7 linked regions of the Homo sapiens genome follow. The protein of the gene in region 6 purifies or fractionates together with the protein of the main gene of each other region. This does not show direct contact. Each region holds a gene or a part of one and is shown on either strand. Other genes may lie near its edges. The genes, in order: SMCHD1, ALDH18A1, CSTA, CA2, RCC1, KDM4C and FBXO22.

Region 1 (4,096 bases), on a different chromosome or scaffold from region 6:
TTTCTGTATATTTATGTTTATGTTTTTATTTACATATGTATACTGAATATATATTTGTTACTGCTTATAGATCACATACTATGTTTCATCAACTTTAAGATTTCATTAACTATAAAAATGTCATTTTATGAAACATTAAAGAAAAATATTGCAAATTAACTCATGACCTTATAAAGTACATCTGGATTTCAGAGATGTTAAGTGTGAAAAAATATCTTAGAATTCATTAGATATGCTTAGCAATATATGATACTATGCAGTAGATTCCATTGTTTTCTTGAATAGAGGCTTCAGTTTTCTAAATAATTTTCCACTTATAAAGATTAAAAATTAGTTCTGTTAAAAATATGTATCATCTTCTATTTGGAGATAGTTCAGGGAACTATTAGAAAATATTTACATATACCTGAATTTTTAAAATCTGTAGCTATATATGTCAAGGTGCTCACTGTGTTCATCTCTACATGAATGAGATTATGAATATTAAATGTTTTATTTTGCTTGTCTTTGTTACTTTTCTGTAATAAGCATTATAATTCCTGTTCTTAAAATAATAAGTTCATTTAAGGAAAAGGGGGTGAAAGGAAAAATCTGCAGAATTTAGGTCTGAGATAATACCATTTCAAAGCACTGTGATACAAATTACTTATATATGTTATATACTGTGTGTGTGTTAACTACTTTTATTTGGGGGCTTGTTTTGCATACATGTGAAGGAAATGATTATATATAAGGATTTAATTAAATCTGTTTATACCAAGAATTATATTTAAAAGAATATGGTTTCATTGGATATTTAAGCATTCAGGTGTGATGAGGGAATTCAGGGAAAGGAAACCTTTGGTACATAAAACTTTTTTTTCTTTCCCCTTTGACCAGGATTATAACCAAAACAGATGTATGAGAGGTGACAGAGAGAAGAGGCCATTGGTCTCAGTAAGAATGCCCTGCTTTCTGCATCTCTGTTTCAGAAGACCAAGAGGGTGACTTACCAGACTGAGTATTTCTGGGGACAATACAAGTACCTGGGCATGAATTTCCATTTCGATTCAGATGGGACTGGAAACAACCATTCAATTTTATGAATCTTACTGGACATTATGGATTTACTGGAATTATTCCAGACATTATGCCCTTTGGTTGTCACTACCTTGCAAATGTGTAAGAGGAAAATGTGCTAATGTGGCAGTGACTGTAAAACTGGCACATGGCATTTATTAATCCTGAAGAAAAGTACATGTACTATTTTTCAGTATAAATATAATGAACATGTCAGAACTATTTCTTGAAAACCTTTTTATTACTTTTGCGTGAATTTATTTAACAAAGATGTTTTGTCTTTTGTGTAAGGGAGGTTCTAGAGGCTAGATGTTTAATTGTAAATATGTGAGGAAACTCAATGCAGAATTCAGGATAAAAATTTTAAAAGCACAGGTATTTGGGAATTGAAATGTTAAGATACCCAGAACAACATTAAATCAATGAGTGAACTTGTGACAGTGGTAGCATTTCAAATTTCAAAAGACTTATCCTGTGTGTGTGTGTGTGTGTATATATATATATATATATAAATATATATATATAAAATATTCAGCAGCACCAAGTTTTATAACTATTGTTTGTTTGACTTTATTAATACTAGAATATGTAGTCTCAGCCTTAATTTTACATTTACATTATTTTGTAATTTTTTATTACTATTTTTAAGGGGTTAAAGAGAACATACATTCTCACATTAGTGTACTTTCTGGTAGAAAGTTGCTGCAAAAACATTTGAAATGTATATTAACCTAATGTATGTCATATATATGTCTTTGTGTAAGTTCAAGACTATTGATCTGTGAAGTTATTTTGTAAGGACATACATTTGGTAAGTAAGTTTGTGTCCCAGGAAATGTATGTGTTTTTAAACCCTTTCTAAATATGCAGGCCATTAATAAATAAGATTGTTTCTTCCCTACTGAATAGATAAGTGTTTTTCTTTTTTAAAATTGGAAGCTTCATAAAAGTTATCTTGTTAAAAAACGATGATGATGTTAACCTATCTATCTTTATAATTGGAAATTATTTAAACTGTTTGTTGTTACAGAAGAAACAAAATGGTAATTACAGAATTAGCTGTGGGGAAGATTGGCTCCCATGGTACTACAGGTTGAGTATCCCTTATTCAAAATGGTTGGGACCTGAAGTGTTTTGGATTTTGGTTTTTTGTGGGGTTTTTAAATTATTATTTTGGAATATTTGCATTATATTTACCAATTTAGCATCCCTAATCCAAAAATCTTTCATTAGAAATTGGAAATGCTTCAATGAGCATTTCCCTTATGTGTCATATCTGCGCTCAAATGTTTTGAATTTTGGAACATTTCTTGTTTCTGACTTTTAGATTAGGGATACTCACCCCGTACCAATATTTGGAGTCCTTAGACATTAGATTATATGAAAATGATTGATTGATAGGTAAGAAAGGTTAAAGAGAAATGACTTTTTAGGAACTAGACTTGAACGTATAATTAATATGTGGAACTAGTTTGCTTTTATAATTCATTGTATCAAGAAGGAGTCATGTTTTAAATCCAAGGCATTGAGACTATCTAGAAGCAAAAAAGTTGGTTTTAAAAATTCTTTTTATTAGAAGTGTGTTTAAAAACATGTCTTTTTTTCCCTTGAGCGACAGTGGCCTCACTACATTGCCCAGGCTAGTCTTGAACTCCTGGGTTCAAGCAGTCTTCCTGCCTTGGCCTCCTAAGTAGCAGGGATTACAGGCATGCACCCACATGCCAATTTTTATTGCTTAAAATGGCGAGTTCTATGGATATTATCTAGCCCCAAGCCCATATCTGTACACTTTTGTTCATTTTATAATACCAGAAAGAATGTTCTATCAGTAAAAGAAGGTTTTTAAGTATGAATCTCCATTTTTGTGGAGTTTTTCTACCCTGTAAAAATTAACTTTGTGGTTCCCAGTAATTACAGTAAGGAGTTTTTCTATATTTTCACAGTTGGATTTATCTAAGGATATTTCTCAGCATATTAAGGAATCCTTTTCTACATTTGAGCAAATACTGAGGTTCATGTTGTACCAAATAATAATAAATTGCTTTTGTGTTTAATATGTAACACGTAAGAACAATTGAAATTTTCTTCTAAGATTTAATACTAGTCTTTTAGTATAAAGGAATGTAACTGGAGAAAAAAATTAATGCTACAGCCATTTATCCTGTGTTATGTGTTATATAATCTGAAATTTGTCACAATGTTACAATCAGGAAGTTTTTTTTCTGGTTTCTTCTTCCAAAGGAAAATAATAGCCTACTTGTATTTTGAAGTAACTGAAATAAAACTCTCTCCAAGCCTTTTTGCACATTACGTTCATCAGTTTTCATGTGTACATTTGGCCAGGCCTATGGTAAAAATAGGCTCAATTTACTTAACATTTTTATAGGGTTTTTGGTATAAGATTCTTTACAGAGACTAAAATTTGTTGCATATATAACATTCAGATTATTTTAAGTGAAATTGGCTCCTATTGTTAAATATTAGTGCTAAGGAAAGTTCAGTCTTCTAAACTGTCTATACTTTGGCTCTGTGACTTGATTACTTTATAGTCATTATGAAATTGATGGGGTTAATTCCATTGTATTTTTAGTATAGAATTTTCAAATAATACATTTTAGTAAAAAAATTGAATGTTTAATTTTCATACTGTGAAACTGGTGAAAAATATTAAAAACAACCATTTAAAACTTCTGGAAATGGTCCTGAGGACAAATGGCAATGAAGAAACATCTATTCAAGAACATTTACAAAAATTCAGTAAGGAAGATGAGAATCTGTGGTAGTTTGAACCAAGACTGACTACTCACTTCCACCTCCAAGCTCAGCAAGCAGACTAACGCAGCCAAAAACGCTGGGTTCCTTATCCCACCATCTCCCAGCCAGAAATTTTTTTCCCGAAAGGAGCGAGACTGTAGTGATTCTTGTCCTGCCTTCAACTGCCTTTTGCTAGCACTAAGTCCTGGGTCAGTGTGGCCAGGTGAGAGCCGTCTTCTCCCCACCAGGCCACAAAACCTTGAACACATGTGCTGAGATTGCT
Region 2 (4,200 bases), on a different chromosome or scaffold from region 6:
AGAGAAACCAAATAATAAAGAAGAGTGATATAAATAGAGATTTATACTGTATTTATACTAACAGAAAAAAAGCTAAGACTACAGAAAGTGGGGTCCCCAGCCATAGGCAATGGGACAAGTCCGTGCCTTTCTGTTTTACCTCACTGACTTGAGGACACTCTGGTGTAATACCAGAACATCACTGTGGGTACAAACAGGCAAATGATGGAGAAACAAAAAAAAGTAACAGGAAATGAAGAAGCAAAACCTGAAACAATATATGTATATATAACAATATCACCTGTGTAAAATAACATCTGTGCATGTAGTGTACATGTAAAATAATATCCATAATATAAAATAACAGCTATTTTACATCTTTACAGGTAAAGGAATTTCAAAATAAAATAATTTGGGAGTTAGATTTTTTTTTCAGTTGTTTCCTGAAGTGACTGTTATTGAGATGTCTCTAGTGTGTAGTTGTACAGTTGATTAAGAATATAATTCAAAAAAATTCAGGAGATTTAGGTAAAAATGAAACAATGTAGAAAGAAGGTTCTAGAACATTTAGGGGTAGCCACCAAAAATTCGTAAGTCCCATGAGGACTGGAATCATGTCTGATTTGTTCACCACAGTATCCCCAATGCCCAAGACTGCTAGGTACACCATAGGTGCTCAATAAATATTTGCTGAATGAGTGAAAAACCAACCAATCACCAGCATTCCTCTTTCCCTTCAAAGCTTAATAAATATCTGCTATAAAAGGCAACCAACCAGGTGCAAAGAGAAGCAAGCCACCTGAAATCAAAGAAGCCAGTGAAATAAAGACATTTAACTTCTCTGTCTTCAGAAGTGTTAGCACTTGGAATCCTAAGTTATTAGTGTAACAAGAACTGATATTTACTGACAATGTATTATGTACCAAACACTATACTAAATGCTTTTCATATATTTTCTCACTGAGCCCTTCCAAAAATTATCTGAAATAGGCACTGATATTATCCCCATTTTCAGATGAGGAAACTGAGGCACAAAAAGGAAAAGAAACTTTCTTCAGATCTCAAGTAGCAAGTGATGAAGCTGACACCATATTCCAATAGTCTGGCTCCAGACCCCTTTGTTCCACAACAACCACCCTCACAGGTCCCACACCCATTTCAAAGCCCAGCCTCTCACCTGGGCAGCACAGATGCTGTACTGGGTAAACATAGCCTCATACAAGGCCATCAGCCCACTCTGTCCGGCAGCTGCACAGGCTCGTGCCTCTAAGACTGGAATTGCCTGTAATATACCAATGAGACAAGGTGTGGTAGGGAATGAGGGAAGAAGACCTGAAGATCCATTTCAATGTGTGGGGAAGCAGCACTCACCATTTCTTTCAGCTGGTTCTGCCCCGAGTGGAGGGCCTGCCGCACGCTCTGAGACAGAAGGATCTCATGGCGCAAGCGTTGTTTGCCAAAGGCTACGGCTCCACTGGTCACCAGCATCATCTCTCTGCCCTGATTCTGCAGCACTGATACCTGGGCATTGAGAAAGGAAAGGGGACTGTAAGTTACCGTACTGTCTCTTTCATCTCTTCACAAGGGATGGAGGTAGGGTGGGCTATCGAGTAGATCCCAAATGCTGGTTTATGAACCAGCATGTGGCTGGCTCTGGAAGAATCAGCCAGATTGGTAAAAACACAGATTCCTACATCCTGTCTCAAATTTCTATTTAGCAGGTGGCAGACAAAAATCAGACATTTTAATTTATTTTTTAATTAAAACAATTGGCTGGGCATGGTGGCTCATGCCTGTAATCCCAGCACTTTGGGAGGCCAAGGCAGGCACAATGCCTGAGCCCAGGAGGTTCAAGACCACCCAGGCAACATGGCAAGACCCAATCTCTACAAAAAGTACAAAATTTAGCCAGGCATGGTAGTGCATGCCAGCTACTTGGGAGGCTGAGGTAGGAGGATCACCTGAGCTCAGGGAGGTTAAGACTGCAGTAACCCATGATCGCACCACCACACTCCAACCTGGGCAATAGAATGAGAGAGATGCTGTCTCAAAAACAACAACAACAACAACAACAACAACAACAACAACAACAACACCCTAAGAAAAAAATTTTTTTAAGGCAGAGTCTTGCTCTGTCGCCCAGGCTGGAGTGCCGTGGCATGAATGTGGCTCACTGCAGCCTTGGCTGCCTAGGCTCAAGTGATCCTCCTGCCTCAGCCTCACAAGTAGCTGGAACTACAGGCTCATGCCACCATGCCCAGCTAATTTTTCTTTTTTAACACATTTTTGTAGAAACAGAGTCTCACTATGTTGCCCAGGCTGGCCTCAAACTTCTGGTCTTAATCCATCCTCCTGCCACGGCCTCCCAAAGCATTGGGATTACAGACATGAGCCACCATGCCTGGCCTAAGTAAGACATTTTTAATGAGGAAATTCTGGTGTGTAGCCAAGTTTGACATCTATAGGACTTGACTGTATTAGGTTGGTGCAAAAGTAATTGCAGTTTTACCATTGACAGTAATGGCAAAAACCACAATTACTTTTGTGCCAACCTAATATTTGCAGGGAGTGTGTAATGCAGAAGGCCTAGTTCCTCCAAGAAATGAAGCCCAGAATAAAAGTCCGCAGGTAGGAAATGCAACGCAGACTCAGTAGATGGCTTCTCAGGTTCTAAGGCTTAACCCGGGTAAAGGAGGCTGTTCTGGTGGCATGTCTAATCCTATGGGTTGCCTCTGCCTACACCAGGGGCACATGCTGACCTTGTTCTGCTCTGTCTGCCCAAGACCAAATGCGGTCACTTTGTTTCCTACCTTAAGCAGACCTACATGAAAAAATTAAAGACTCAAGATGTAATAAAGTCAATATTCCTAAACTGTCCTTTCCTTCTGATGTCTGAAACCTTTTAACTGGTCCAGCTGTTTAACAAACAGCTATGATAAACCATGATTTAAAACAATAATAACTTTTTTTTTTTTGAAACACAGTCTTGCTTTGTCACCCATGCTGGAGGACAGTGGCACAATCATGGCTCACTGTAGCCCTGACCTCCAGGACTCAAGCAACCCCCTGACCTCAGCCCCTTGAGTAGCCACCTTGGCTTCCCAAAGTGCTGGGATTACAGGTGTGAGCCACTGTGCCTGGCCCCGACAATAATATTTTATCACAGAAAGTTTCAGCTGGCTGAGGTGGGACGACTGCTTGAGGCCAGGAATTCGAAACCAGCCTGAGCAAAATAGTAAGACCCCATATCTATGAAAAATTAAAAAAAATAATAGCCAAGTAGCATGTGCCTGTAGTCCCAGCTACTCAGGAGGCTGAAGAAGGATCCCAACTGAGCCCTGGAGTTCAGGGCTGCAGTGAACTATGATTACACCACTGCATTCCAGTCTAGGTGACAGAGCAAGACCCTCTCTCTAAAATAAATAAAAAGAAAAAGAAAAAGAAAATTTAATACTTAACCAAAGTGCTGAGAATAGTATTATAAATCCCCATGTACATACCACCCAGTTTCACCAACTATCTCTCATGGCCAACTTCCCACTCTCCAATAACCCCTCTATACCCTCACCATTGTTTTAATACAAATTCCAGGCAACAGACATGTTATTTCATCTGTAAATAGCTCAGTAATAACTGCTAAAAGATAATCATATATATTATATATAATATATAATTATATGTCTTTCTCTCTCCACAAATCCATTATCTGGAATATTTCAATGATTTCCTTCATATCAAATAGCCAGTGTTCATATTTTTCCAATTTTTTTTTACCTTGCTCAAATTGAGATGCAAATTAAACCCTGCATTACAAATTAATTGAAGTGTCTCTCAAGTCTCTTTCATTCATGGGTTCCCTTCTCCATCAGTTTTCCCCCTTGTAATTTTTTGTTAAACTGAGTTGTTTATTCTTTAGGATTTCCCAGCCTACATTTTCCCAATTGTGTCCTTATGGTATTAATACTGCTCTTTGTATACCCTATAAACTGCTGTTTGGTATGAAGGCTTTTTTTTTTTTCCCCAACAAGTCTTTATAAGTTGTGGTGTACATGTTCATCAAGGGGATACATAATGCCTGGTTATCTTTCTTTTTGTGATGTTAGCATCTGTTGATGATCATTGCCAAGATCCATTATTCCATTAGGAGATGCAAAATGCTGACACTCTAACTCAATGATTCCTTCGTCATTTATAATCTGGAATAATTCCAAAAGGGAAACT
Region 3 (4,200 bases), on a different chromosome or scaffold from region 6:
TTGACCTATACCCCTGTGGAAAACAATATACTAACTAGAGTGCAGTATTTGGGTATAATTCTTATAAAGACCCTGTGATTGCATGGGCTTACCTGGATAATCCAGGATAACCTCTCCATCTCCAGAGCCTTAACTTAATCACACCTGCAAAGTCTCTTTTGCTGTGTAAAGGAACCTAGTCACAGGTTCCAGGGATTAGGACATGGACATCTTTGGAGGGCCATCATTCTGTCTACCATGGAGGGATATGGGTTGGGTTTAAATGTCAGCATTCCCGAACCCAGCATGAGAAGGGAGACAGTCCCAAATTCAATATGTAAACTTTTACTGAGCCCATCAACTTTCTGTACAGTGCTTCATTCCCACTCTCAGCTGGGCCTGATATGCAAGAGTCTACTATGAGCTCTTGACTCAGTTCCTGCTAAGTGTAAAGCTCGTCTTCTGCCGGGGTGGAGGACAGTGAGGGAGAAGGAACTATGGGAGGTCTCACTGTCCTTCATACAGATCAGTCCTCTTGCTTTTGGTCTGAGACCTTACTCCTGGCTACGACTTTTTGGTGTTGCTCATGCCTGCGCCATTGTGACGTTCTGCAGTGTGAATCTGCTTGCTTCTGGCTTAGACTTTCCCCTCTATGGGCTTAGCTTCTGTTTAGACTGCTCAGCATTTTCCATTGTTCATCTGTTTTCCAACTTCCAAAATTTTATTGGTATTTCTGAGGTGGTACTTGCCTATCTCCTGTTGTCTTTATGTCTGTGGATTTGTCCTTCAACCCCAATTCTTTTCTGTCTTTTGGAGGAAAAAGGATATAACTCTCTGTGTTGAATGTACCTTGTTTATTGAGAACTTGCTTTTATGCCCTTCATGAAAGCATTGCATGTCCATACAACTTCAATCAGGCCTCCAGTCCATCTAGGATTCTCCCAAGGCAGTCCTTCCTATCAGTGGGCAGGTTTTTTTTGTTTTTTGTTTTTTTAAATTTAAGAGACAGAATCTCCCCCTCACCCAGGCTGGAGTGCAGTGGCGTGATCATAGTTCACTGCAGCCTCGAATTCCCGGACTCAAACAATCCTCCCTGGGCAGATGTTTTGAACCTTTACTACTGATGCCTCAGTTTGAGTACCAGAACTGTTTTCAAAGATGTAGACATATGCAAACTGTGAGTTCTCAGACCATTTCTGAAAGGCCAAACACTCCACGGACCACCACTCAGTTCTCCTGTAACCTTGAGAATAGACGGGAAAAGTGTGATTGTTCTGTTGAGATGGAAATGAAATTTCAAAGTGGAGAAAGGGAGAAGACAAATAGTGAGGACAAACCAGAAGTGGGAAGAGCTAGGGGCAGGAGAGCGGAGAAAGGATGCACAGAGAAGTAGAGTAAGGAAACAGGTTATTGTCTTAGGGTCCCTTTCCAAAGCCTTTCAAAATTCCAAAGGAGGGATGGCCAGTACTTGGCACCAGTCAAGTTAGGAGCTGAGTTTGAAAGAGTTAATCTCTACACTAACCCCCAAAGTATCCATTTAAACCTCATTTTATGAATGGAGAATGTAAGGCTATGAGTTGAGCATGACTGCTTAAAGTTGAAAAATTATTCAACATAGTTATTTTAAAGTCCTTGCATGATAACTTATATATCTGATCTGTGTTCCTTCTGCTTTTCAGTCATGTTTCTTTTTAAGCACGTATCCTAAGCCAACCAGCCTTTCTTTTCTTTTCTTTCTTTCTCTTTCTTTCTTTCTCTTTCTTTCTTTTTCTTTCTTTCTCTCTCTCTTTCTTTCTTCTTTCTTTCTTCCTTTTTTCTTCCTTTCCTTTCCTTTTCCTTCCTTCCTTTCCTTTCCTTTTCCTTCCTTCCTCTCTCTCTCTTTCTTCTTTCTTTCTTTCTTTCTTTCTTTCTTTCTTTCTTTCTTTCTTTCTTTCTTCTTTCTTTTCTTTCTTTCTTCTCTCTCTCTTTCATGGAGTCTTGCTCTGTCACCTAGGCTGGAGTGTAGTGGCACAATCTCAGCTCACTACAACCTCTCCCTCCTGGGTTTAAGCAATTCTCCTGCCTCAGCCTCATGAGTAGCTGGGACTACAGGCATCTGCCACCACTCCCAGCTAATTTTTTATATTTTTGGAGAGATGGAGTTTCACCATGTTTGCCAGGCTGGTCTCAAACTCCTGGCCTCAGGTGATCCACCCACCTTGGTCTCCCAAAGTGCTGGGATTACAGGGGTGAGCCCCCATGCCTGGCCCTAAGTTTTTATTTCTATCTGTCCTAGAAATATATCCAAATCTTTAACTTTTCCATCGTATCTGTGTAATCCACAAATGCAGAATTTTCCATGAGAGAGGGGATTTAAAAGATCTGGTTTGTTTCTTGAAGTGTTCTGGCACCTGTCAGACTGTGGACCTTGATTTCTGGTTCACTCTACTTGTAACTTGCAGCCTCCCTCCCTCTTCCCAGTAAAATAGATTTGCATGGTTTAATGTTAGATGACATGGACCTGAGTGATGAGATTTGAGCTGAGGAGCAGGGAAAGGGGCAGAGTAGGGGAGCTTGTCAGTGAAACTTAAGTCTCAGAAGGTAGCTTGGTGCTGAAAGACTCCCCAGGATGGGCACTAGGAGGATGCAGGCCAGCTGGGAACGGTGGTGGGAGACTGGCGGTGAACGGACACATCTCCTGCTGAATGCAGTTGGCCTTCACCTTTCTCAGTCTGCCACGCGTGATGGTGACGGGAGCTCAAGGAATACAGTGGAGGTTTGTCGCTTGGTCTCCAGCCGGGGAGGAGGCTACCAGGGAGAAGCACCTGGTATAATGCATTTAACCCAGAGTTCTTCAAGCATTTCTCATTGCTACTGAGCATGAATCTTGGTGAGGTGTTTATTCTCTGAGATCTGAGGATTTGAGCCATGAGGCACCCAACACTCAGGCTTTTCCCCTAATCTGTAGTCATTCTACAGAAACAATAGGACTGTGCCTAATTTAATAGAAAATAGATAGAAAGATATTGATGGCAAAGTGGATGAATTACATTTGGGGGAGATTTAGAGAGTAAGGAAGGAGAGTTTGAATAGTAACATGAAAGGACAGTAGGGCCAGTAAGATGTGACTTGTGGACATTTATTGTCTAAGTATGTTTTGAAGGAAGAAGGAAGTATGGGACAAGGCATTGAGGATGCAAGAAATGAAGTCACCTGGCTAAGAGAGGAAGGACTGGCTGAAGAGAGGAGAATAGAGTCTAGGGAGGAATGAGATCCAGCAAGAGATAGGGTCAGCTGGGGCATTTTCTTACCAGAGATCTGCAATCTCCTAAGACAGGTGTTCCCAACCCCTGGGCTGCAGACCAGTACCCATCCATGGCCTGTTAGGAATCGGGCTGCACAGCAGGAGGGGAGCAGTGGGCCAGTGAGCATTATGGCCTGAGCTCCGCCTCCTGTCAGATTAGCGGCAGCATTAGATTCTCATAGGAGTGGGAACCCTATTGTGAACTGCATGCAAAGGATCAAGGTTGCGTGCTCCTTATGAGAAAATAATGCCTGATGATCTGAGGTGGAACAGCTTCATCCCAAAACTATCCCCTCCACCCCATCTGTGGAAAAATTGCCTTCCACAAAGGTACCAAAAAGGTTGGGGACAGCTGGCCTAAGAAGAGTAGGAACTGAGACATCCTGCTGGAGGGACCATGGGGGTGGGAGGCAATGAACAACTGAAGAGAGATTTACATTTGTGGGGTTTCTAGAAAAAGACCAACAAATATGACTGCAAGAATGTTCTGGCAGCCCTGGGTCCTGTCCGGGTTGTTAAGCATTAATCCACAGGTTTGTAATGGTGAGTTTTCTGTGGTTCTGCACCTCGCTTTGGCAAAGTTCTTTGATTCTGGAACAGTAGTAGCTGCATAGAAAGTGGTGGCAGTGGGTGTGACCTTTAATTGAGAATTAGAATGTCAGGAGCTCCCAGGGTCAAGGAAATCATCATGAGTGGAGGAGTATTTGAAGCTACCCTCCTGTCATGGGGTCCAGGCTGGATGAGAGACTCAGTGGGCCTGGGCATGTTCTCATGAAGTTGGGAAGGTAGGTGCCTGAAGGATTCTGGTGTGGCTGAATGACAGGTTCTTTGGGTGTGGGACAGTGGGAGAGGCGACTAATAAGGAGGCTGTGGTCAGAGAGGGGAATGCAAATTTGTGGATGGGGTGAGAGCCATGACATGCTAAGTTCCAGGGTGTG
Region 4 (4,200 bases), on a different chromosome or scaffold from region 6:
CCTCTTGTGAATCCTAAGGAATGTTCACTTTCTACATTTCAACTGTGCGCTAAGAGGTAAGTCTAGGAAAAACTCATTTGTATCCACTTTAGTGGCTGCTCATCAGTGACTTAGAAGCTGCACTAATCACTTGACGATCACACACTATATTTTATTGGAAATGTAAGAATACCTGCTCTAAGCCTCTAAAGCAACCTGGAGTGAGTTTTAATAGATACATGTTCTCCAAGGGATGACTCTCATCTGTCAGGATTCAGAAATGCATTCTGATATAAATAAAATAGCAGAAAGCCCTTATGTGAGTGAGTAGTAGGCTGGTAACTCACTGATACCTGCGTAACCTTGAATATGAACTCTCACTTTTCTAAGCCTTAGTTTCCTCATAACTGGCAAAAAAAAAAAAAGGCATTTATTAGGTGACAGACATCTTTCTCATTGAATCCTTACAATGACTATTCAATTTTAGAGACTAAACGAACTAAGTTTATAGTTAATAACAACAAAGATTTACTGAACGCTGTTTATTTGCTAGGCACCATCAAAGGCACTATTTCCATAGCAAGAAGTAGCAGGAGAAGGATTAAATCTCAGTTCTCTCTCACTCTGGAGGCCAAGGTCTTCTGCCTTGACTAAATGCTCCACCCGTAAACAGACCTGTCATTACAAAACAAACCTGCTCGCTGCTGACGCTGATGGGTTCCTTGAGCACAATCCAGGTCACACATTCCAGAAGAGGAGGGGTGGTCAGTGAGCCTGGGTAGGTCCAGTAATCCAAGGATTCAGGAAGGAGGCCACGAGGATCGAAGTTAGTGAAGTCAGCACTCTTGCCCTAGAACAAGGCAAATACGCAGCTTCAAACTATCACATTGACAGAGTAGGAGGAAGGTAGGAGAGCAGCAGACACAAATAGGTATACTCCCCTCTGATGGTCAAAAACACTTTTTAAAAAAGAGGTTCTATATTCACTGGCAAACAAAATAAAGAGAAATTAACAGAAGACATTCAACTTGAAAATATGTGGCAAGTCGTAGTAAAAAAAAAAAAAAACTATTTTCACATGTCCATTTTTCATCTTGGCCTTTTATCTAAAATGATCCCTTACATTCCCCATTAAGTCATTAGCTGATCACACCCAGTATTTAAAGTGAGACTGCTGCCACTAAAATGAGGTGACTTCAAGTTGCAATAACAGAAATATGGTATCCTGATGAGGAGGTGATTTTCTTGCTCTAGGTCAGAATCAAATAACTACATTCTGTTTTGGACACTACACTTTTCAAGCAAACAGGAATGATTTACTGGAAGAATGACAAGGTGGTGGCAAAGAGAGAAAACTATATCATATGAGAATAGTTAAAGGAAACTAAAGATAATTAGTTTGGGGTAGGTGAAAAAACAAAGTAGAGACAGAGTAGAGTTATTTGGAAGAGAGATCAGGTTTATTCTATGAATTCAAGGGGCTCAAGCCAGTGAGTGAGCATTTCAGAGGATAGATGCTGCTTCAATGTGAAGATCAGCTTTATAAAGCCAGGGCTGCCCCTGGTGATAAGTTCCCCATCACCGGAAGTGACTGTAGTGTTTAAACAGATGCTCAACGACCTCAACACAACTATGCTGCAGAGAGGATTTAAATGCAGGATGGATGAATGCAAAGAGGTCATAGAATAGAAATCTCCATGAAACAGGGCCTTGTTTATCTTGTTCACCATTGTGTCTACTAGTTTGCAAAGCGACTGGCACATAGTACATACTTAACAAATATCTGCTGTATGAATGAGTGAATAATTTGACTAGAGGACCTTTGAACCTCCTTGCAGGCATAAGATTCTCTGACTCTTACATATGGATGTCCAAATGATGGGGGAGCAAGATTAAATAAATACAAGTCTTAGAATTATGCTAGCATTAGGATCAACTTTGTTGAAAGAAACGTTAATTAAATATTTAAGTAATATTCTACCTTTACTAACTGCTCATCCAAACACCACATGTCATTGAGACTGTGCAATTTGATCAAAAGAAATTTCTAAAACCAATGGAGTATTGAAAATTGGTACCCTAAGGAGGTGGCAGAAAATTCAAATTTACCTTTGTTTTAATGGAATCCAGCACATCAACAACTTTCTGAAGGCCCGGTTTAGCGCTGCCAACCTAAAGAAAAACATAAAGGGCAAGATACTATCACCCAGTTGGTACTGTACCAGTTTTTATTTTTATTTGGGTAGCTCTATTAGAAAACATCCAAATAGTGAGCCCAAATTCTCCACTTCATACATGACCCCCATCAGTACTGGCTTGATGACACTGACACCATAGACTTGCCTACTTTCACTGAATCTTCAACTCGCCTCTAATTCCACTCAGAGAGTAGTCCTGAAACCACCAGCTCAATTGTCCCCAGTGACCTCTAACTGCCAAAGGATACTCCTCAAGGGCTTGCCTTGATTTCCTTGTAGGACTTTACACTATGGTCTTCCCTTCTTTTTAAAAATTATTTTCTTCTTTGGCTTTCCCTACGCCTTCCAGCAACCCAAATCTCTCTTGACTCTCGCTTTTTTTTTTTTTTTTTTTTTTTTTAGAGTCAGAGTCTTGCTCTGTCATCCAGCTTGTAGTGCAGTGGCATGATCATAGCTCACTGCAACCTCAACCCCTAGGCTGCAGTGATTTTCCTGCCCTGGCTTCCCAAGTAGCTGAAACTACAGGTGTATACCACCATGCCCAGCTAATTTTGTGTTTTTGTTTTTGTTTTGTTTTTTTGTTTGTTAGTTTGTTTTTTATGCCCAGCTAATTTTTAAAAAAATTTTGTAGAGATGGAATTGTGCTATGTTGCCCAGGCTGGTCTTGAGCTCCTGGCCTCAAACTATCCTCCTGCCTTGGTGTCCCAAGGTGCTGGGATTACAGGCTTAAGCCACCACACCTGGCCCCTTTTAAGTTGTTTAATTTGCATCTCTCCCCTTGTAAAGGCCTTACATTTTGCAGTTTCTCAGGATTGCTCCCTGGGCAGATTTCTCATCTCCCTCTTCGTGCTGTACTTGGATGATTTCATACACACCTGTAGCTTCCACCTCAACATATGAATCAGAGCTCATAAATCTCCAGCCCAGACCTTTCTCCATTCCCCTTTACCACTGTTTAGAGGGCAGCTCAACCGGTTCTGTCCCACTGTTGCCTGAAATTCACTGTCCTTCCCCTCTTCAGAACCTGATCTTACTTTATCATAATATAGTACTGTCTAGCCTCAGGTTAAATGAAAAGAAAACAAACAAACACCTAGCAGTCACCCAAGTTGATCTCTTTATGTTCTTCACATTTACATCCAAAAGGTACCAAATAAGTACCTCTCCTATTGTCTTTCTGCCCTCCATCTCCACTGCAACTAGCAGATATGAAAGGAGGAGATAAACTTGAAAACATTTCAGGGACAAAGGCATTTCCTAAGCTCTTTTGTAGAATGTCCTGTATGTTACAAATACTCTGTCTGGTCATTCTTTATTAAAAATAGGGAAAAAAAAGAATTGGGTCATCAACTAACCTTCAAAAAAATACCTAGAACGGCCAGTCCATCAGGTTGCTGCACAGCTTTCCCAAAATCCCCATATTTGGTGTTCCAGTGAACCAAGTGAAGCTAAGGCCGAAGAGACAAAGCCACAGTGAGTGATTTACATAATCAAAGCTGACAGATTTTATTCAATGGTCTTTTTCTCACAATAAAGGTTACTCAGGAAATTGAAAATATGGATAATTTTAAATCAAAATTTTCCTTTCATTTTAATTCTAATCATCCACACAGTACTTGGTATAACAGCAAGTGTTTTCATCAATAACTCTAAGACAAATAAATGTACAGTTTTGACAGAAGGCACACATTTTATTTCTAAATTTCTGTTAAAACAGGATCCTCCAGTTTGAGTCCGTTTACTTTTTGCAAATGGTGGAGTTGGAGACAGTAGAGAAAGTTTTGCAGCGTTAAGTATGATGTCACAATTAAAGGTTATAAAAAGCAAATGTGAAGGTCCTTTGTAAAAGAAGTGGTTCACTGGGCGTGAGTTGAATTTACAAATTAAGCTTTTGAAATTAATGCTAAATATCAACTTATAAACATTTTTCCCTGGAAAGAAAAAAAAAAGTATATCTTACTTCTGCAGCATATTTCTTTTTATCCACAGTATGCTCTGAACCTTGTCCATCAAGTGAACCCCA
Region 5 (4,200 bases), on a different chromosome or scaffold from region 6:
TTCACAACCAGCCTGGCCAACATGGTGAAACCCCGTCTCTACTAAAAATACAAAAATTAACCAGGTGTGGTGGCGCATGCCTGTAATCCCAGCTACTCGGGAGGCTGAGGAAGGAGAATTGCTTGAGCCCGAGAGGCAGAGGTTGCACTGAGCCGAGATTGTGTCATTGCACTCCAACCTGGGTGATAGAGCAAGACTCTGTCTCAAAAAAAAAAAAAAAAAAAAAAAAAAAAAAAAAAAAAAAAAAAAAAAAAAGAAAAGAAAAGAAAAGAAAAAAATATAATTCTGATATTCTGATTACTTCCTTTTTTTTTTTTTTTTTTTTTTTTTGAGACAGAGTTTCGCTCTTGTTGCCCAGGCTGGAGTGCAATGGCGCGATCTCGGCTCACTGCAACCTCCGCCTCCCAGGTTCAAACAATTCTCCTGCCTCAGCCTCCCGAGTAGCTGGGATTACAGGCATGCACCACCATGTCCAGCTAATTTTGTAATTTTAATAGAGACAGGGTTTCTCCATGTTGGTCAGGCCGGTCTCGAACTCCCGACCCCTCAGGTGATCAGCCTGCTTCGGCCTCCCAAAGTGCTGGGATTACAAGCATGAGCTACTGCGCCCGGACTTCTTTTTTTTTTTTTGAGATGGAGTCTCGCTCTGTCCCCTAGGCTGGAGTGCAGTGGCGCGATCTTGGCTCACTGCAAGCTCCGCCTCCCGGGTTCAAGCCATTCTCCTGCCTCAGCCTCCCGAGTAGCTGGGACTACAGGCACCCGCCACCACGCTTGGCTAATTTTTTGTATTTTTAGTAGAGACGGGGTTTCACCATGTTAGCCAGTATGGTCTCGATCTCCTGACGTCGTGATCTGCCCATCTTGGCATCCCAAAGTGCTGGGATTACAGGCATGAGCCACCGCGCCCAGCCCAATTCTGATTACTTTCATGTGTTTGAAATTCTCCATGAAAATTTCAAAATAGATGTGATAAGGAAACACCCATCAGGCCGGGTGTGGTGGCCCACGCCTGTAATCCTAGCACTTTGGGAGGCTGAGGCGGGTGGATCACCTGGGGTCGGGAGTTCGAGACCAGCCTGACCAACAGGGGAAACCCCGTCTCTACTAAAAATACAAAATTAGCCAGGCGTGGTGGCGCATGCCTGTAATCCCAGCTACTTGGGAGGCTGAGGCAGGAGAATCACTTAAACTTGGGAGGCAGAGGTTGCAGTGAGCCAAGATTGCGCTATTGCACTCCAGCCTGGGCAACAAGAGTGAAACTCCATCTCAAAACAATACAAAAACAACAACAACAACAACAACAAAAACCCACAATCTGTTTTTTCAACTACACTCCTCTGTACCTTGGAAACTCTGAGATGCGACAATCCCTGCCTCCACACCTCCTTGCCCCATCCAAGCCTCTGGGAAGTGTGGAAGAGGCAGTGCTGGCAAGGTGAGGGGGAGACAGAAGTCAGGGAGATGGGTGAAGACAGCAGGCCTCCTGGATCAGCCTCAACCCAGGGACATCCTTGACCCACTCACTTCCCAGGACAGACACTTGATGACATCGGATTCAAGGAAGCAGCCAGTGGCGTGGACAGGCCCACATGAGGAAGCTAGAGTCCTGGGTCTGGGCCTCAGCTCTACCTGTGGGCTTTCATCTCCCCACCAGTAAGTACCATGGGGGCATGGAAGTGGATTATCTTTGGGGCCCCGCCAATTAATTCTGTCTTTCAGGGACCATGCAGACTTTCAGACCCAGCCTTACCCGGAAGGAGCCCCAGAGGAAGACACGGCCATCATCGGTGAGGGCTGCTGTGTGACTGTCTCCTGCTGACACCTGTACCACCTTCTCTTGCAGCTCCACTTTCCCAGGGACCATCTCCGAGCCCTCCACTGATGTGTCCCTTCCCAGGGCACCCTCATCATTGCAGCCGAAGGAATAGACCTGTGCCCAGGATGCCCTCATTAATGCAACGTCTGGCCTCGCAGTCCATTCTCATGTAGGCCACTCCCCACTTGACTAGCCAGCTCCATTTCCACAGTGAACATGCGTGGTTCAAAAGCCCTGCCCCAAGCCACCCAACCCCAGGCCTTGTCCAACCCTGTGCCAGTCCCCAACACCTACCTGGCCACTTTTGCTTAGACACACGGTGTGCATGCCCCCAGCCTCAGCCTGCACAACATCCTCCGGAATGGATACCAGGGCCGGCTTCTTCCTCTCCATCACATTCTCACCCAGCCCCAGCTGGCCCACGTCGCCCTGGCCTAGTGTCAGCACCAAGCCGGGTTCTGTGCTGTGGGACCTGTGTGAGACTGAAGGGTGAAGAAGATAGACCCTGAGTGTAGAGGATGACGACAGCGAGGAGAGGTCACAGGCTCTGGGATCAGACAAACCTGTGCAGAAGCCCCTGCTCTGCCACAGACTGTTAGTATGAACTTTCTAAGTTTTGTCATCTGTGAAATGGGGACAACAAAAGTACCTCTCTCACAGGATTTTTGTGGAGATTAAGAACTGAGCACATTATTCACGTGAAAGGGGAGAAAGGGAAACAAGGAGACACTGGATACTGTGAAATGAATCTTGGTGGAGAGGGCAAGAAGGGCTGGGTGCGGTGGCTCACACCTGTAATCCTAGCACTGTGGGAGGCCAAGGCGGGCGGATCACTTGAGGTCAGGAGTTAAGAGACCAGCCTTGCCAACAGTAGCCTGTAATCTCAGCTACTCAGGAGGCTGAGGCAGGAGAATCACTTGAACCTGGGAGGCGGAGGTGGCAGTGAGCCAAGATCGTGCCACTGCCGCCTCCAGTCTGGGCGACAGAGTGATACTTGATCTCAAAAAAAAAAAAAAAAAGAAAAAGAAAAGAAAGCTAATTATTGTTATTGTTATTTTGAGACGGAGTCTCCCTTTGTCGCCAGTCTGGAGTGCAGTGGTGGATCTTGGCTAATTGCAACCTCTGCCTCCCGGGTTCAAGCGATTCCTCTGCCTCAGCCTCCTGAGTAGCTGGGACTACAGGCGCGCGCCACCGCGCAAGGCTAATTTTTTGTATTTTAGTAGAGACGGGGTTTCACCGTGTTAGCCAGGATGGTCTCGATCTTCTGACAGGCGTGAGCCACCTTGCCCCGCAGAAAGCTAATTATAATAGCAGAATCTGCACCGAAAGCAAGGGAGACTACGTGGGTCAGAGAACAATCCCCAGTCTCCATCCAAGCCCTCCTCCATGCCCAAGCCGTCCGCCAGTGAATAAGTTCAGCTCCCGGGCAAATCCACTGCAGAAACGGACTCTTCCCTCCACCATCCAGTGGAGAGGCAGGAGGGGCGGGAGGAAGAGCGGACAGCGGCATTTGCGGGAGGTGCGCGCCCGGGGCTCTCTGTGGGCCAAAGGCGGCCCCCCAACCCGCAGCCCCGGGCAGCCAATGGCGCCCAGCCCCTCCCCCGAGGATGTGGCCACCGCTGAGGAGCCCGCGCTGGCAGCACAGAGGGCGCCCCGGGCGCGGAGCCACCTGGTCGGGTTTTCTGGTCAGGAGGGCTCGGCCCGCAGGCACCTTGGCAGGAGCGGGCGCCAGGAACGCGGCGGGAGGCAGCGGCCCTCGTGTCTGCAAAAGACAGACACTGTCTGAGCGTGGGTCCACACTTCCCCTCCCAGTTTGGTGCTGGCTTTTCTCTCCTCCCTGTCCCCCTCCGGGGTCCCAGGACAGAGGAAACCACAGCCACCTCCCTCAAATGCTGCCAGGCCATTATCTCATCTCATCCTCACACAGCCCAGAGAGGGTGACGCTGCTCTGGCTGCCGCCATTTTAAGAAGTTGATAATCCAAACTGCGGGATTAAGTGACTTGCCCAGCAGCTAGAAAGTGGCAGAGCAAGGACTTGAACCCATGTCGGAAAGTCAGTGGTCCTAACCATAATGCATCACTGCCTGGGGTGAAGCCCTAGGGTCTAGTTTTTTTTTTTTTTTTTTTGTGCCAGTGCTGCCTGAGTGCTTTGAGAGGAGTTTCTGCCCACTTTGTGATTCCCAGAGGGTAGGATTCAATGAGCTACAGGAAACCTTCCAGCTGGGTGGGGTCTCTGCACATCCACACCCTTCAGCTTCAAGCCTCAGGAAGAAAGGAGCCCAGTCCCGGGTTCTTAGGGTTTCAAGGGGCCACCTGTACCCACAAAGAGGCCAAGGCCAACTTACCCTTCACCTTCTTGCTTTTGGGGATGGCATCTGCTGGGG
Region 6 (4,961 bases):
TGAAACCCTGTCTCTACAAAAATACAAAAATTAGCCAAGCATGATGGTGGGTGCCTGTAATCCCAGCTACTGGGTTGGCTGAGGCAGGAGAATCGCCTGAACCTGGGAGATAGAGGTTGCAGTGAGCCGAGATCGCGCCATTGGCACAGAGTGAGACTCCATGGACAACAGAGCGAGATTCCGTCTCAAAAAAAAAAAAAAAAAGACATCCAGGAAAGGAAAACACAGCATTAACCATAGAATAAAGCCCCACTTTAGAGAACTGGAGAACTGAAGTTGGCAGTGGAATAGGGAAAGATCAACAGGCCCCTTCAAGGCTTGAAAGAGTATCACCAAGCCAGGCACGGTGGCTCACGCCTGTAATCCCAGCACTTTGGGAGGCTGAGGTGGGCAGATCACGAGGTCAGGAGATCGAGACCATCCTGGCTAACACAGTGAAACCCCATCTCTACTAAAAATAAAAAAAAAATTAGCCAGGCATGGTGGTGGGTGCCTGTAGTCCCAGCTATTCAGGAGGCTGAGGCAGGAGAATGGTGTGAACCCAGGAGGCGGAGCTTGCAGTGAGCAGAGATCGTGCCACTGCACTCCAGCCTGGGCAACAGAGTGAGACTTCGTCTCAAAAAATAAATAAATAAATAAATAAATAAATAAATAAATAAATAAAAAAGAGTATCACCCAAGACTAACTATCCCTCCTTACGCATGCAGTCATTCAACAGATGTTTAACCTAGCAATTACATTATATATATATATATATATACCCAAGAGTAGAGAAAACACGCGTCCACACAAAAACTAGTTCACAAATATTCATAGCATTACTCAGCCAAAAGCAGAGATAACACAAATGTCTACCAACTGATGAATAAACAAAATGTGATGTATCCATAATAGAATATTAGCCATTAAAAGGAATGAAGTACTGATACAGGCTGCAACATGGATGAACCTTAAAAAACATTATGCCAAGTGAAAGAAGTCACTCACAGAAGACCAGATAGTGTATTATTCCATGTATATAAAATGTCCAGAATAGCCAAATCTATTGAGACAGACAGCAGATTAGTGGTTGCCTAGGGACAGAAGGGGATAGAATTGGAGGGAACTAGGCAATGACAGCTAATAGGAACAGAGCTTCTTTTGGGGATTAAAAAAATTCAAAAATTCATTGTGGTGATGGTTGCACAAGACTATTCATTTACTAAAAGCTTTTATTTATTTATTTATTTATTTATTTATTTATATTTTTACTTTTTTTTTTTTTTGAGATGGAGTCTCAGTCTGTCACCCACGCTGGAGTGCAGTGGTGCCATCTCGGCTCACGGCAACCTCCACTTCCAGGATTCAAGTGATTCTCTTGCCTCAGCTGGGATTACAGGCGCCTGCCACCATGCCTGGCTAATTTTTGAATTTTTGGTACAGACGAGGTTTCGCCATTTTGGCCAGGCTGGTCTTGAACTCCTGACCTCAGGTGATACACCCGCCTCGGCCTCCCAAAGTGTTGGGATTACAGGCAGGAGCCACGGCGCCGGGTCTGATTTTCAACTTTAGAAAAGCAACTGACTAAAGTCTGTTAATAAAAAGAAATAAGTCTTCGGTTTAAATTGTACTGTATTACCAAGTTTGCGGGATACTGTAAAGCTTATGTGAAAACTTTTCATAACACTGAAATTGGGAGAAAAAGCACCTAAAAAACCCGAACAACCGTGTAATCCGTTCCAAAACAAACTATGGGCGGGTTGCGCGGAGGCCAGCAAGGTAAGAAAGCAAGCGATAATCGCAAAGCAGAGCCGACTGCTTCCTAATAAAAAATGGACCTTTAAAAATTAAAACCACTAGTTTTCAACCACAACACTTCGAAATGAGAATATTAGTCACCGTTGCCATAGAAACAGTAAAGCCAAGCTGCCCGGAATTTAGACATTTTTTTAAATACCGCAAACTGAAATGGGTGAAAATAGGGCAGAGTTTAGTGTGAACCTAAGTGGCCGGAACCTACTAGTAACTTTCACCAGGATAAAAGTGACTCTGCTTTTCTAACCTACATTTCCGAACAGTGCTTTATAAATCACCTCTCGGGGTTAGTTTATCAAGCGCAAAAAAAAGTTTACCTTGTCTCTTCCGGAAGAAGGAACCTGACAAAACCCCTCCCGGTAGTATTGCCCACAATCAGAGCCAGCCAGCGCAGGCTTGCACCGCGCAGCAAAGGGGGAGCCCAGCATCAAGTCCACGCGGAAAGCATCTGAATCCCGGCTGCTGGCTTTACTGGCGGAGCACAGAGGAAAACCCCAAGCTCCTGCCTACAGCCCCGGCCTGTCTGGCTCCCTCCTCCACGTCCCCACTCCACGCCACGTTCTGTGCCTGGCAGTCCACGCGCCCTAATCCAACTCGCATTTATTTAAGCACCCGCCGTCTACACCGCATCATGGTTCCTCCAGGCACTGCAGGAAGAAATGGCCCCATGCCGGGGGAAAGAAACACCAAAAGGACAGCCGCGAGGGCTGAAGACGACCCCGAATGACGGGATGACTGCCTGCAACGGGTGGTCAGGAGAGGAGCTCCCACCCTCACCCCGCGGGTCGTGACACTCCCAGGGAAGGGAGGGCCCCGAGGGGTGCACCAGGCCCGGCCTTCCTGGAGTCCGCCACAGCCGACTGGCGGCGTTAAGAGGTCCGCATCCCAGGACCGCCCGAGCGCTCCTCTGCCCCAAGGAGGCGACCCCGACTCCGGATCCCGGGAAAACGGCGAGCGCGGGTACCGAACCTCGGTAAGGGCCGGAGCGGGCTGTCACCGGCCCCCGCATCCCTCCCCTGCGGCCGCGGCCGGCCGCTCCCTCCCCAGCTTGACAGTCGCTGCAGTCACGGACGGAGCGTCTCTGCCCCAGCGTCGCCGCTCGCCCGGACGCCCGCACCCCCGTGCCCCACGCGGAGGGGGGCAGTGCCGGGAAGACCTCTCCGGACCCTCCCCCCGCCCTGGCCCCCAGACTCCGGAAAAGCGGTTACCTGGCGCGCGGGTTGGGGCGAGAGCACGACTCGGTGGAGGAGGAAGAGAAGACAGTGGCCTCCGGCCCAGGGAGATTTGGGAAATTTGGGAGACTTGTTCCGCACTAGGTGACAGCTGTTCGCTGCGCACGCGCACAGGACCCCGGCCGCCCGATCACTGCGCCGCGCCTCACCCTCCCGTCGAGGGGGTGGGTGGGAGGCAGCGGCGAAGGCGCGCGCACCGCCGGCTCTCCCTGCGCGAGGGCGCGCGCGCCGTCACGTGACCGCTGGGGCCCGCACTTGGTGAGTCACGTGGGCTTACAAACAGCTTAAAGGTGCCCGGCACGCTCTTGCTTTGGGCTCAACTTCCGCGCTGTGGTTAACTTAGGCTTGCTGGCGCGCATCTTCTTGTCCTTTGGACACAGGCATATCCCATTCTTTCCGGAGGGGAAAGATACTCGCGTAGAAGGAGAAAACAGGTGCACAGAACCTTGCCCGGAAGCGCTGGCTGGGGTCCCGCAGGGCTGGACCTGATGTAGTCCACGCGCCACACGTCCTCCTGGGCGCCGACGCGCACCTATGGCGGCCTCCGACGCGCGGACGTCAGCGTGGCGTTACCGGGGTGGAGCCTCGGAATGTACTGGAGAGCCTGGCGAGAAAGTCGGGGCTCGCAGCTCTCCGGCGATGACAGCGCTGTGTTCCCGTTCTCCCTTCACCCGGTGGCCGGGACCACTGAGCCTCCTTCCCACAATGGGAGATCCCGAATAGGCGAAGAGTATCTTCGTGTCCCAACCCTTTAACAACTACCGCGCAGGAGCGTGTCAGCCTCTGGAAGCAAAACTGTCCGGTGTTGAGTCACCTACACCCAGCACGTCCCGCCCCGACCCGCCCAAGTGTGCTCTTAAGATAGGGAGGCACAAAGGTGACCCCAATAGGAATCCTGGGCTGGCGGTCCCTCAGAAACTAGAGTTGATAACAGTTTGGCCAGAACTGAAGTGACTAGAAATGCAGGTGCCTCCAGCGTCTGAGACTAGATAAGTTAACTTCCTACAACTTGTTGCTTTTCCTCTGTAACTCCGCCTTCCGAGGTGTCAGAAGGAACCAACCAGACCTTAAGCCCCTGTACTGCCAAAGACAGATGGTTGAGCATCAGATGTTTTGCAAAGCTGAATGATTTTTTTTTTAAACTTCCTACAGAGCTCCCAGCTGGGTCCCTTGTGGCGTTTTCTCTAACGTCTTAGCTAAGAAAGATTGGGCATATCTTCACACCAGTGAGCAAAGTTGGGCTAATATGCTGAATTTTCTGTTACATTATACTGATAACAGAATTTTAAAAATATATCGACACCGCTTACCACGCGCTTGAACTCGTTTCTCACTGGGGTGAACATTGTGAGGACAGATGGAATGTGATTAATTGAGCTAAGGCTAACGGGATTATTGGGTCACCATATTTCTTTAGTTGTTAAAAACAAAGTTCCGCTACACACACAGACACACTCTTTTTTGAGACGGAGTCTTGCTGTGTCGCCCAGTTTGGAGTGCAATGGCGCTATCTCGGCTTACTGCAACCTCCGCCTCACGGGTTCGAGAGATTCTCCTGCCTCAGCCTCCCGAGTAGCTGGGATTACAGTCGCCCGCCACCACGCCCAGCTAATTTTTGTATTTTCAGTAGAGACAGGGTTTCGCCATGTTGGCCAGGCTGGTCACAAACTCCTGACCTCAGGTGATCCGCCCGCCTCGGCCTCCCAAAGTGCTGGGATTACAGGCGTGAGCCACTTCACCCGGCCACACACAATTCTGAACTTGGCTAACGTATACTCAACTGGGAATTTTCCAAATGTGTGCATGTAACGTCAGGATCCCAACCATCCTTACAAGTAAATTGGATATGCTAAAATAATAAATATGCAACCTAACACTTACTTAGAACAGTAATGTGAGCTACACACTGTCTTCAGAGCTTCACATGTATTAAT
Region 7 (4,200 bases), on a different chromosome or scaffold from region 6:
ATGGTTTGGGGTATATGATGTCATGAAAGTAATATTCTTTTTACTGTCCAAGTCAGTAATTTACTGTGTAGAGAATTGGAAATGGACCAGAGGCAGTTTCCCAGAATAGGTCATTATTTGGTGTTAGTAATTGGTCATTCACGCATCTGCATACCCTTTGTTTCCTTAAGTAACTCTCCTTTCTGGTAACCACCTTAGGTTTGTCAAGGTGGAAGTCATGTGGTCAAATCAAATGGAAACACAAGTGTGTTAGGTATTAGATTCATTTTCCTGTCCCCAAAGCACCCGTTTGGTAATGCTGGCAGAAGACATACATGCGGCCAACAATCATAGGAAAAAAAGCTCCACATCACTGATCATTAGAGAAATGCAAATCAAAACCACAATGAGATCGTATCCCATACTAGGCAGAATGGCTATTAAAAAGTCAAAAAATAACAGATGCTGGCAAGTTTGTGGAGAAAAAGGAACACTTATACACTGTCGGTGGGAGTGTAAATTAGTTCAGCCATTGTGGAAGATAGTGTGGTGATTCCTCAAAGACCTAAAGACAGAAATACCATTTGACCCAGCAGTCCTATTACTGGGTATATATTCAAAGGAATATAAATTATTCTGTTATAAAGACACATGCACATGTATGTTCATTGCAGCACTATTCACAGTAGCAAAGACATGGAATCAACCTGAATGCCCATCAGTGATAAACTGGATAAAGAAAATGTAGTACATATGCAGCCATAAAAAAGAATGAGATCACGTCCTTTGCAGGGACATGGATGGAGCTGGAGGCCATTATCATTAGCAAACTAACACAGAAACAGAAAACCAAATACTGCATGTTCTCATTTATAAGTGGGAGCTAAATGATGAGAATACATCGACGCAAAGAGGGGCACAACAGACACTGGGGCCTACCAGAGGGTGGAGGGTGTGAGGAAGGAGAGGATCAGGAAAAATAACTAATGGAGAATGGGCTTATTACCTGGGTGATGAAATAATCTGCACAACAAACCCCCATGACACACGTTTGCCTGTGGAACAAACCTGAACATGTATCCCTGAACTTAAAAAAAAAATCAAATTGATAGTCTATAAACAAGCTGCCAGAGGCTCCAGTGAAACCTGGGAGCTGTGGGCAGAGCAAGTAGGCTGTCTCTGTTACACTCTGCCACCTCCTAGCGGTAGCAGCTTTTAGTTCCTGTGTCACAGAATTGAACATTTTCCTGCTTTGCAAGGAACTTTCAAAGGCTAATTCGCCTTTACTCTCACCTGCTTCCGTGGAGGAGGTGAATAAAGCCTGTATTTCAGTGATGTAGTAGTTTCTTAGGCTGCTGTAACAAAGTACCCCAAATTTGGTGACATAAAACGAGAAATTTATTCTGCACAGTTCAGGAGGCCAGAAGTCTGAAATTGAGATGGCAGTAGGGGTAGTGCTACCTTGGGAGGCTGTAGGGGAGAGTCTGTTCTTTTTCTCTTCCTACCGCTCCAGTTTCTGCTTCTGTGGTCACACTGCCTTTTCTTCTCTGTCTCTCCTTTGTACATCTTTCATTATGAGGACACTGTCATTGGATTTAGAGCCCACGTGGATAGACCAGATGATTTAATCTTAAGATCCTTACTAACATAGCGAGACCCCATCTCTACCAAAAAAAAAAAAATTTTTTTTAAAGATCCTTTTTCCAAATAAGCTTACATGCATAGGTTCCAGAGGTTTGATGTGGATATACCTTTGGCATGGGCAGGGGGCACTGTTCACCACACTATAAGTGGTTAGCGCCTTTTCTCTCCTTTAAAAAATAAAAAATCTGTAAATTCTCACTGCTGCTAGCACAGCTCTGTGTAAACCAGTGTTTTTTTTTTTTTGTTCCCTACTGAGAGCCAGCTTGCACCTTGGTCTACCAAGAGTTGCTGCTCAGTACATAGCTGCTTCATTATTTGTGTTGATTGCATTATTTATTAACACAAATAGCCATTTAGTTTTTTTAATAGAAAAAATAATTAAGATTTTGCATAATGTTTGTAAAAAATGGAAAACTTGATACAGAGATCGAAGAGGATATAAAATAAGATAAAAAATAAAAAATGGAAAATTTGATAGCTTAAGCCACTAAATTGCCCTTAAGGTGGAGTGCAAGTCAGTAACATTTCATTTTGCAGCATGTATAAAATAATTTCTGTTTTAAGGCTGTCTTTAACTGTTGCTCTTCATTTCTCTGCAGGTCTTTTAGATAACCCTGAACTTCGTGTGGTCCTTGTCTTTGGTTATAATTGCTGTAAGGTGGGAGCCAGTAATTATCTGCAGCAAGTAGTCAGCACTTTCAGTGATATGAATATCATCTTGGCTGGAGGCCAGGTGGACAACCTGTCATCACTGACTTCTGAAAAGTATGTCTTGTGTGCTTCTGATTTCGTCTGTGAATGAAGGGAAATGGTCTCAGGTTTTGTCACTTTGGGGTTAACAATTTAAAAAACGTGTTTAAAGAATTATTAAGATAATAGTTCATTCCATTTTGTAGTAGACATTGGCTAAGGGGCTTACTGAACATAATTCTGCTTACGGTTGAATAATTACATTTTTATATATATTGTCCTTCAAGAACTTCCTTGAGTCACATTCTCCTTAAAATTTGACATTGCCTGTTGATCTTTCCTTTGACAGATGTGGTACTCTGTGTGACCTCAATGTGTCACCTCCTTTCTAGTTTCCTCCTTTAAAGGAAACACATGGTTAGAGTGTATCTTTATGGCAAAACTTCTCAGAGCTTCTAATATGCCCAGTGCTGTGGAAATCTGGAAGGAGAATAGCATTACCTGTGACAGTTCCCAAATGTGTTTGGTCACAAAACTTTTTTCCACAGAATGTCTTGCAAGTCGTACTGGTTTTTGGAAATTCTGTATTAGATCTTTTGAAAGGCTTTTTCAAGCTTAAAAATTGTGGATCTTTTTTGTTACTAAGGCTTTTGCTTTCAAAGATAAAAATATTTGCTCTTCTGTCTTGGGAGCCATTACTTCCTTTCCATCTTGAATGAAAATACATATCATTTTGAGTTTGAAACAATTAGGTGGACATAAATATCATTTGTTTCCAGCAGGAAAATCAGACCCTACCCCACCCTCAATGCTTGTAAACACTACTATTTGTTTCCCACTCTGTTTAATATTTGCATCCTAGAGTGGTGACATGGGGACAGACTGTTGCAGATCAGTATCTATAAGAATAATGTAAGTCATCCTAGTTATAGTCTCTCTTCTGGTTATCTCTATGAGCTAGATCTGGGAAAATAGCTAAAGTTGAGGTCCCTGGACTGCCAGGGAGGAGGAAGAGAGGAAGGCCAAGTACGTTGAATCCCAGGCAGGATATCAAACACTGGATTTTGTGCATACATACACTGAATTCTTGGTGGCTATCTAAGTTATTTCCCCTCTTGCCTAATTTTTCCTGTGTCTTTGCTATTAACTTAAATTGTGTACGGATAGGGCAATGGTGATTCAACATACAGTTTACCTTTGAAATGCAGATACCTCACTCAGACTTATAACATCTGAGGTGCTAGCTTGTAAGTGTAGCTATTTGTATATCATCTACTTTTTATACCTAATAAGAGAAACACCCCCCACCCCAATCATTACTCTTCACATGACCCATTAATTTTAATGTGGTCTTCATACTCTGTCAGTGGTTAAGAGAAACCATTGAGTAAATGAGGGCTCCATTTTAATAAAGTCCAGATAACCCAACTGACCCAGTGCCCCAAAAGGAAGATGTATAATTCTTTGAGGCAAGATTGACAATGTATATTAACAATTCTGTACCAAAGAGGAAATGTGATAAAGTTTTAAGAGCAGCAGAGGACTTCAGAAGACGGATTTTGCCCCTCACAAACTTGTTTTACTACTAGCTAGCCTTATTACTTTAGTCACTTAACCTTTTTGCGTCTTAGTTTCTCACTAATCCAGTGACTCTTGCCCATTTTATAGATTCAGATGTTGGAAGCATGATACAATACTTGTTTATCCCCTAGTGGATGTTCACTATATTATGCTTTATTACTTTTATCAATGTTGTATTTTCTTTTGTAAGGATATTTCATTTTTTAAAAAAACCAGGCAAATATAAACAAAAACAAAGCATGAGTTTTTACCATCAAATTAAGCTGAACTCTAGACTCAAAGCAATAAACAAGACAAAAAAATAAC

The links.
Region 1: the proteins of KDM4C (region 6) and SMCHD1 purify together in Homo sapiens (affinity purification with mass spectrometry; one large-scale study listed by BioGRID and IntAct). This does not show direct contact.
Region 2: the proteins of KDM4C (region 6) and ALDH18A1 purify together in Homo sapiens (affinity purification with mass spectrometry; one large-scale study listed by BioGRID and IntAct). This does not show direct contact.
Region 3: the proteins of KDM4C (region 6) and CSTA purify together in Homo sapiens (affinity purification with mass spectrometry; one large-scale study listed by BioGRID and IntAct). This does not show direct contact.
Region 4: the proteins of KDM4C (region 6) and CA2 purify together in Homo sapiens (affinity purification with mass spectrometry; one large-scale study listed by BioGRID and IntAct). This does not show direct contact.
Region 5: the proteins of KDM4C (region 6) and RCC1 purify together in Homo sapiens (affinity purification with mass spectrometry; one large-scale study listed by BioGRID and IntAct). This does not show direct contact.
Region 7: the proteins of KDM4C (region 6) and FBXO22 purify together in Homo sapiens (affinity purification with mass spectrometry, with the first as the bait; one study listed by BioGRID). This does not show direct contact.

Annotation. Positions count from the first base shown.
Region 1 is NC_000018.10:2,801,649-2,805,744, forward strand, and holds the end of SMCHD1 (structural maintenance of chromosomes flexible hinge domain-containing protein 1), read left to right. Parts: intron 1-879; coding exon 880-904; coding exon of another isoform or gene 905-987; 3' UTR 988-3,369; downstream 3,370-4,096. UniProt on the Homo sapiens protein: Non-canonical member of the structural maintenance of chromosomes (SMC) protein family that plays a key role in epigenetic silencing by regulating chromatin architecture.
Region 2 is NC_000010.11:95,635,937-95,640,136, forward strand, and holds part of ALDH18A1 (delta-1-pyrroline-5-carboxylate synthase), read right to left. Parts: intron 1,501-4,200; coding exon 1,351-1,500; intron 1,262-1,350; coding exon 1,157-1,261; intron 1-1,156. UniProt on the Homo sapiens protein: Bifunctional enzyme that converts glutamate to glutamate 5-semialdehyde, an intermediate in the biosynthesis of proline, ornithine and arginine.
Region 3 is NC_000003.12:122,331,256-122,335,455, reverse strand, and holds part of CSTA (cystatin-A), read right to left. Parts: intron 1-4,200. UniProt on the Homo sapiens protein: This is an intracellular thiol proteinase inhibitor. Has an important role in desmosome-mediated cell-cell adhesion in the lower levels of the epidermis.
Region 4 is NC_000008.11:85,473,749-85,477,948, reverse strand, and holds part of CA2 (carbonic anhydrase 2), read right to left. Parts: coding exon 4,138-4,200; intron 3,626-4,137; coding exon 3,533-3,625; intron 2,152-3,532; coding exon 2,089-2,151; intron 830-2,088; coding exon 674-829; intron 1-673. UniProt on the Homo sapiens protein: Catalyzes the reversible hydration of carbon dioxide. Can also hydrate cyanamide to urea. Stimulates the chloride-bicarbonate exchange activity of SLC26A6. Essential for bone resorption and osteoclast differentiation.
Region 5 is NC_000001.11:28,529,901-28,534,100, reverse strand, and holds part of RCC1 (regulator of chromosome condensation), read right to left. Parts: coding exon 4,162-4,200; intron 3,579-4,161; coding exon of another isoform or gene 3,486-3,578; intron 2,299-3,485; coding exon 2,111-2,298; intron 1,931-2,110; coding exon 1,751-1,930; intron 1-1,750. UniProt on the Homo sapiens protein: Guanine-nucleotide releasing factor that promotes the exchange of Ran-bound GDP by GTP, and thereby plays an important role in RAN-mediated functions in nuclear import and mitosis.
Region 6 is NC_000009.12:6,756,246-6,761,206, reverse strand, and holds the start of KDM4C (lysine-specific demethylase 4C), read right to left. Parts: upstream 3,235-4,961; 5' UTR 3,004-3,234; intron 1-3,003.
Region 7 is NC_000015.10:75,927,662-75,931,861, forward strand, and holds part of FBXO22 (F-box only protein 22), read left to right. Parts: intron 1-2,222; coding exon 2,223-2,388; coding exon of another isoform or gene 2,389-2,425; exon of another isoform or gene 2,426-3,206; intron 3,207-4,200. UniProt on the Homo sapiens protein: Substrate-recognition component of the SCF (SKP1-CUL1-F-box protein)-type E3 ubiquitin ligase complex that is implicated in the control of various cellular processes such as cell cycle control, transcriptional regulation, DNA damage repair, and apoptosis.